2 linked regions of the Homo sapiens genome follow. The protein of the gene in region 1 purifies or fractionates together with the protein of each later gene. This does not show direct contact. Each region holds a gene or a part of one and is shown on either strand. Other genes may lie near its edges. The genes, in order: CSRP1 and YBX3.

The links.
Region 2: the proteins of CSRP1 (region 1) and YBX3 fractionate together in Homo sapiens (co-fractionation; one large-scale study listed by BioGRID). This does not show direct contact.

Annotation. Positions count from the first base shown.
Region 1 is NC_000001.11:201,486,594-201,490,413, forward strand, and holds part of CSRP1 (cysteine and glycine-rich protein 1), read right to left. Parts: intron 3,752-3,820; coding exon 3,583-3,751; intron 2,392-3,582; coding exon 2,262-2,391; intron 1-2,261. UniProt on the Homo sapiens protein: Could play a role in neuronal development.
Region 2 is NC_000012.12:10,709,614-10,713,433, forward strand, and holds part of YBX3 (Y-box-binding protein 3), read right to left. Parts: intron 3,721-3,820; coding exon 3,598-3,720; intron 1,176-3,597; coding exon of another isoform or gene 1,146-1,175; exon of another isoform or gene 738-1,145; intron 502-737; coding exon 295-501; intron 1-294. UniProt on the Homo sapiens protein: Binds to the GM-CSF promoter. Seems to act as a repressor. Also binds to full-length mRNA and to short RNA sequences containing the consensus site 5'-UCCAUCA-3'. May have a role in translation repression.

The sequences.
Region 1 (3,820 bases):
GGGGCTGCTACCCCAAGCTCTCTAGGCTGGAGAAAAACTGAATCACACCTAGACCAACACCTCTCCTCATATTTCCTAGCCACCTCCCTGCCAAAATAAGCTGAATCCCTTTGCTCATTCATAAGCACCCAAAAGTACTCCCAGCTCAACATTTCTTGAGCGAGGCAATAGAAAGGTGGGGCTTCTCCCTACCTTTTCCACTTGAATGCAAAATTCTCTTATCCTACTCCTTAGTACAGCCCTAACTTTACCTTATAGCCTGCCTAAGTAATGGAAATAGTGATTCTTAGCTATTCTTAATAATTTTCTATTCTCATAATGAGATAGAACAAAAAACCCAACTTAATAATAATATTAATGTCTCCTGTTTTCATATCCTTTAGTCAATGGCAAGGATCTTCATTGTGACCTCAAAATAATCCCTGAAAATAAACAACAATAATAATAACAATAGCAAAACTGTACTGAGGACATACCAGGCACTACATTGCACATTATACATGTACTATCTCATTTAATCATTAAAACTGCCTTGTTGTTGGGTGTGGTAGCTCACACCTGTAATCCCAGCACTTTTGGAGGCCGAGGTGGGTGGATCGTGAGGTCCAGGCTGGTTCAAGACCAGCCTGGCCAACATGGTCAAACCCCATCTTCACTAAAAATACAAAAATTAGCTGGGTGTGGTGGCGCGTGCCTGTAGTCCCATCCACTTGGGAGGCTGAGGCAGGAGAATCACTTGAACCCGGAAGGCAGAGTGCTAAGATCGCGCCACTGTACTCCAGCCTAGGTGACAAGTGTGAAATTCTGCCAAAAGAAAACAAAAACAAAAACAAACAAACAAAAAAAAACTGCCTTATTTGTCAGGGGCCATTACTTGGTCCACTTTGCATTTCCTCCACCATCCAGGCCCACTTTAGAGCTGAAGAACTGAGGCTTAGGAAGGCTAAATTTTCCCAAGTTCGCTCAGCCAATAAATGGCAAAACTAGGATTCAAAGCAGGCTGTCTAGAGTCCAAGCTCTTAATCACCGTGCTAGGATCCCCTCCCATTTTGCAGCCTTGGAAATGGGTTTGAAGAGGCTAAATGGCCCAAAGTAGCATTAACAGTAGTAACAGCAGTAAGAGCAAGGGCTTCGGAGTCAGACAAACCTGGGCTTGAGTCTGGCTTAGCCCCTTCCTAGCTAGCGGATCTGGGCAAATTATGTAATCCTCCTGACTCCCAGTTTCTTCATCTGTACAACAGGGATACTAATCCCCATCTCTGTCCAACCATGACTGTGAGAGTAGAGATTCTAACACTGGCCTAAGTGTTAATTGTTTAACATTTCTTGATCAATTCCCCTATCCCATTCCTCAAGGTCAAAAAGCCTTGAAAGCCAAAACCTGAATCCAGAAGAGATGAAGATGGGCTCCAGGCCCAGACATTCCATAACCTTGTTGTGTGATCTTGGCCAAGTCACTTTTCTATCTCAGGCCTCACGTGATGCTCCAGAATTCCTCTCTGGCCCCACAGCTGAAAGACATCTCTTCTGTGATTTTCTGACTGCTAATCTGACACTGCAAACCCCAGGGGCAAGAGTTCTGCCTCTTCTCTACTGCAGCCTATCTGAAGGAAGTGATCAGCTCAATTGGGAACTGTTGATTTGCTACAGTGATTCTCACTGTGCATTGGTGATTGGGGGCTACTGTCAGAATATCATGGGGGAAGGGCATGTGCGGCAATTCTAAACAGTGTGAAAAAAGCCTCCTAGGAGGCTCTGGTAGGTCTGAACCTTGAAAATCTCTGCCCTGGGGGTATTTGGATGGGTTTTTGGGAGTCCACATCCCATGAAACAGAATGTATATTTTTGGGATCACAAATCCTTTGAAAATTTAATAAAAGCTATGGATCTTCTTCTAAGAAACAGACAGGTTCCCATGAAACTTTGTATATAATCTTCAGGGCTTTGTGGACCCTCTGCAGCCCATCCACGTACCCTTACTTTCTGTTCTCCTATATTAGAGATACAGATTGATCATTGCCACTCCCTATGAATTGCCCATTGTCCATCAATGCTGGGGATGTTACTGCTCATGGCTGATATGAGCTCCTTGGAGACTGGAAAGCACAGGTACATGCAACCCACAGGGACAAAGAGAAGAGGTTAAACCCCAGTGCTCAGGCTGCCCTGAGCAGAGCTAGGTCACCAATTTAAAAGTTCTGGAATCCACATTTCAGGAAGATATCTCCCCCCATCCCTCTCATGCCCAGCAGCCACCTTACCTTCCCAGCACCAATCACCTTCTCCGCAGCATAGACTGCCTGGCTGCATCGGGGGCAGCGCTCGGAGCCACCAATCTTCTGGGCAAATTTGGATGCATTGGGGTTGGTGGTGGGCCTGTGGCCAGGGGCTCTGCATGGAGAAGGGCATGGGGTGAGGTGACTTACACTGTAAGTACAGGTGGGGCTGGCACTGAGAGGGCATGACCCTACCTTCATCTCATGCCAGAGCAGCGCGCAATTCTCTCTGCCAAAGTCACAAAGGCTAGGGCCTCTAGGGTCATCTCCCATTTTACAGATGGACAAACCAAGCCTCAGCACAATGTTATTTCCATTGTAACATCATACTTCCCTCGGTCACCCAGTTAACCCCAGAATCATTTAACACCCCATTTGCTAAGAATTGCCCTCCTCTGCCCCTCATTCCTGCAGCTGGTCTATTATCAGATTCTTTACAGGAGAAATCTGCTGATGAATCATTCCCACTGGGGCAATGACCTTGGCTGAAACTTGGTAATTCATCCATCATTTCCGTCCACCCCCCAGGCCGAGGAGCAAGCCAGGCTGACTGCCAACAGCCACCATTTACCCAGAGGCCAGGGAGTGCCGTGGGGTGAGGGGGGTGTGGTGGGGCTGATGACACCCTATGGCATTTCGAAGAAAGGGAAATGACTTCTTCTCAGTAGTGAGAGATAGCAGGGCTGAGACAGTGAGGCTGGTGTGGCAACGGTGCTGCCCTGAGCCCCTGATCTGGCTCCGACACTCACTAGCCGTGGGACCCCAGGCAAGTCACTGAGCCTGGGCTGGATTTTCTCATCTATAAAAAGAGGAGGCAACATGGTGAAACCCTGTCTCTACAAAATACAGAATTAGCTGGGTGTGGTGGCACATGCCTGTACTCCCAGCTACTCGGGAGCCTGAGGCAAGAGGATCACTTGAGCCCAAGAAGCAGAGGCTGCAGTGAGCCAAGATTGTACCACTGCACTCCAGCCTGGGTGACAGAGCAAGACTCCCTTTCAAAAAAAAACAAAAAAAGAGGAAATTGGACTAAGTGATTCTTGGGGCCCCTCCCAGCTCTGACTCTCATACAAATATAGAATGCACGCTCCTTGCAGGGAGGAGCCCAGCCTGTTTTAGTCCCTGCTGCATCCCCAGCTCCTGCAGCAGCCTGACACATAGACACTGCTCTGTGACTGCCTTTTAAATAACTGGTTTTCTGAGCCTTCCATTGCTTACCCAAAAATGGTTGTAAATACACATGAGGCCTAATACAGGGTGGGGGAGAGAGCTCAAGAAAAAGGTTGGGAGGGGATCTTTTACTCACTCCTCGTGCTTGATACCCAGCGACTCCCCCTTGTCAGTGCTGAGGGTGCCTGCGCCCTGCCCGTAGCCATAGCCTTTGGGCCCATACTTCTTGCCGTAGCAGGACTTGCAGTAAATCTCCTCACCATGCACGGCCACAGTGGTACTGTCCAGATTCTTCTTGCAGACCACTGTGGAGGGGAAGGGGAAGCGGACGCATTGAGTTGAAGCTGGGGTGACCTTCTTGCTCATTGCAAGCT
Region 2 (3,820 bases), on another chromosome or scaffold:
CTTACACATTCCACCTGTCTTGTTACCTTAATTCTTTTGTTCTTCTATCAACTAGAAACTTTGGCCATAAGGGTTCCCTATTATAGGCATGGATCACGTGGTTTTGCTTTTAGAAGTGTTACCGGAATGACTGCTTTGAAAAAACAGACTGAAGGCCTTGCCTCAGCTTTTGTAGCATCAGGAAGCCATAAGCAAGGTTTCTGGCAGCTGATGTTGGAGGAGGAGGAGGAAGAGGAGGCAGAGAAGGACGGAAGGGTGAGGATTGCTGAAGAGAAGTCTCAGTTGCAATTTTACCTGTATTCTGTTGGGATGGGGTAAGACCCGTGAGCGACGGTCAAAGGTCTGTCCCACGTGGTAAGGCGGGAACCGCCGCTGCCGGTACTGAGGGCGATACTGGGGGCGGCGCAGCTGATTCCGGGCCCCAGAGAACTGCCTATCAGTGGCAGGGGGGTCAAATCCTTCACTGCTGCCGCTCCCTTCCTCCTCCTCCTCCCCAGCGTACTAGCGAAGCAAAGAAACAGAGATTCAGAAGAAGTTTTAGCAAGGAAAGAACCAAAGAACACCATTTAGGATGAATATCACCAAAATAAAATCTCCCCAAAGCAATATAATCCTTTCCATTATACAGACAAAATGCATTTAACCCAGATTATCATGTGATTGCCTGGGATAAACTACATTAAGATTAGAGTAGATCTGTGCAGATAAAATACCAAGAAGCAGAAAAGCAAGAGCAATCAATCTACAATCAATTTAATAGTCATCTCATTAGAACTCGTATCAGCTAACCAACCACCCGAAGAGTATCTGCAAGGTTTATAATTTTTGCTCCATCAAATGCGTGTCTCCCAGCATTTACCATCCACTGAGGCAATGTCAGGGAAAAGCCAAAAAAGAATACATTTTATGATGTTACCAACATATTTGACCCAAGTGGTATTCTTCCTACAAGTCTGTAAAGTGTGGATGGGATTTCTGAAAACTTCCAGGGGGTCAGCGAGGTCAAACTATTGCCATAATATTACTAAGATGCTATTTGCCTTTCCCAGGCATTCTCTCAGAAGTATATGGTGGGGTCTCCCAAAGGCTACAATGACATGTGGTCTCTCAGCAGACTGAATGCAGAAACAGATGTGAGAATCCAGCTATCTTCTATTAAACCATACATCAGAGATCTGCAAAAGTATAAAGCAATACCACTCTTTTCAATTTAAATATTTTTTTTCCATAAAAACTGTTATTTTCATGAACATATAGTTATTTTTAATCAATTAACATTTTAAGTTTATTTTACTTTCTAATATAATATTAATATAAATAAACATTGACAAAAACTCTAGAATCCTCAATAACATGTAAGCATATAAACAGATCCCAAAATCAGGAAGTTTGAGAACCACTGACCTAAGGCATGACTCCCTTTATATGTTTAGGAGTAAAGCTTTAATCATACTTTGATGGTAGTAAGCCCTAATCCTGGAGGTTTCTAAATAATAGATCTTATTAATATTCACAAAGGAATTTACCGATTCATTTTATATTTTTCTTCTATTTAAATTATATCATATACTACCATTTTACATTTTAAAAAACCAAACATCCTACAAAGACTGTGATTTCAAGTCTTACTTTAAAGGGGATATGCAAATGTCTTTAATGGGAAGTAACTAGTTTTTAAAAATGAATAAATAAAAAAAGCAAAATAATGACCCATTACTTTTTTTTACAGGAGTGTATTTAAGCTTTGGACCCTTCCAGAACAAGTCCACATGTGCAACCAAACTCCCCCTCCAAAAAAGCCTCAACTAGTCTAACTTCAAAAAAAATCAAGTCATTCTACTCTTCATAAAACCTCTACCAAAGATGAGATTCACAATTATGTAAACGTTTATTTGCACAGAAAATGCTTACCAAAATATTAAGTGTGAGACAACATAAACTGTTTTTCTTCTTGGGCTTATCTTCCTCTTTTGCATTTCACACAATCAAATCTTTAAGAGTTTTACAAAGCATAATAATGGCACCAGCAATGCTGAACACACTCTTTTGAGAGATACTGAACAAGTTGTTGGGACTTAGATATTACAACAAAAAAGCTCATTTATGTATACTTTAAGAGTTTTAACAATTTTGTTTCTTAAGCGTTTTAACAATTTTGTTTCTAAATATCTTTTATATGCATGACTTTGGAATTTTCAGGTTTTGGACAGGAAAAGTCTTTAAGAAAAATTTTTCACTGAATGTTTTTCTACCACTTTTGCTTTTGAATTAACCTGGGAGTCAAAATAATCACAGTTAGCGCTCTGTGACTCTGATGAACTTCAAAGAGAACATGATGTAGGAAATGCTACAGCAGCTCATTCCTAGCTATCCCCCTCATAGCTTATTAAAAACCAAATAAGATAAGCAAAAACAAAGAAACAAGTGGGAAGTCCTAAGGAATCTGACAGAATTAATTTGGGCAGGATGTGATGATGGCAGAATAAGGAGGAAAAGCATTTAGGTAAACAGAAAGATATAAAGCTATCAAAACATAAAGATAGGTCATTCTCAATCTGCAGATATTTAATTCTGATGAGTTTTTCTTTGGATGAGACAGGCAGTCACAATCCTGTGCTGACAAACATTCGGAGTTTTCTTCAATGTGCCAATACCTGGTTCTAATTCTAGAAACACCAAGAATGATTCAAATCTAGTAAGTTTCTCATGACCACAAATATACTGGGTCCGTTTTGGGTGCCTTGAGAATACTCCTATAAACTGAGCCTCCCAAGAAAGCTCCAGCCAGATTTGTGACAAACTCTTTCCCCTGCATTGAAACCAACCTAAAGAACTAAAAATCCACAGAATCACTTATTGCTTCTTTACTTTGAAATAATGGAAAAATGCTATGCTAAATAAAACAGCCTCTTAACCAAGGCAAATTCGTTAATAGTTCTGTGGCCTGTACTTTTATTGCCTGTTCACAAGTTATTTCTCACTCTTTCACCAACCAAATTTTGATTTTCTTAGAGGTCAACAGTGTCGGCACCAAAGAATGAACAACAAGGTTAAGTCAATGATGGAAATCCATTCCCCTTTGCCAGTGAATGTCTGTGACTAGGTTCTGGCCAGAAAAAAGAGCCAAATGAAGAGAAACCTTGTTAAAAAAAACCTCAGCACTGTCTCCCTTAAGTCTTCCTGTTAAAAGATAATTAAATGTCTATTACTTGTAGCCAAATATATCCTAACTGATACAACTTCTGAATGGCAAGTGTCTAATGAGACCAGCGGCTCTGGAAAAGTTCTGAGCGCTAAAATTTCCCCTTAAGAGTACCGTGTATACTGCTCCAGTGATGGGTGCACCAAAATCTCAGAAATCACCACTAAAGAACTTATTCATGTAACTAATCACCACCGGTTTCCCAAAAACCTATGGAAATCAATAATACACATTTTAAAAAATAAGATAAAAATTTCCTCTAAAGAAAAAATAAAAATCACTTAAATCATTTGTCTCCAGGAGAAGACAAGGCATTTATCTGCTCCAAGTACATACACTTAATTCCATGCATGAACAATTTCTCAATCACTGGTTAAGTAACAGAGACAACGTACATTCCGGGGAGGGCCACGGCGCCTTCCATAGTAGCCACGTCTGTAACGGCGCCGATCTGCAGCGTAACGACTCCCTTCCACAGGAACTCCATCCGGGCCAGTCACATTGGCAGCTTCTGCACCCTGAGAAGAAAATAAAAAGATGGCCTCAAAATTAAAAAGAATATACACTAACTCAAAAAACAGCCTTGGACTGCTAGAGTATAAGACTGGCAGAACATAC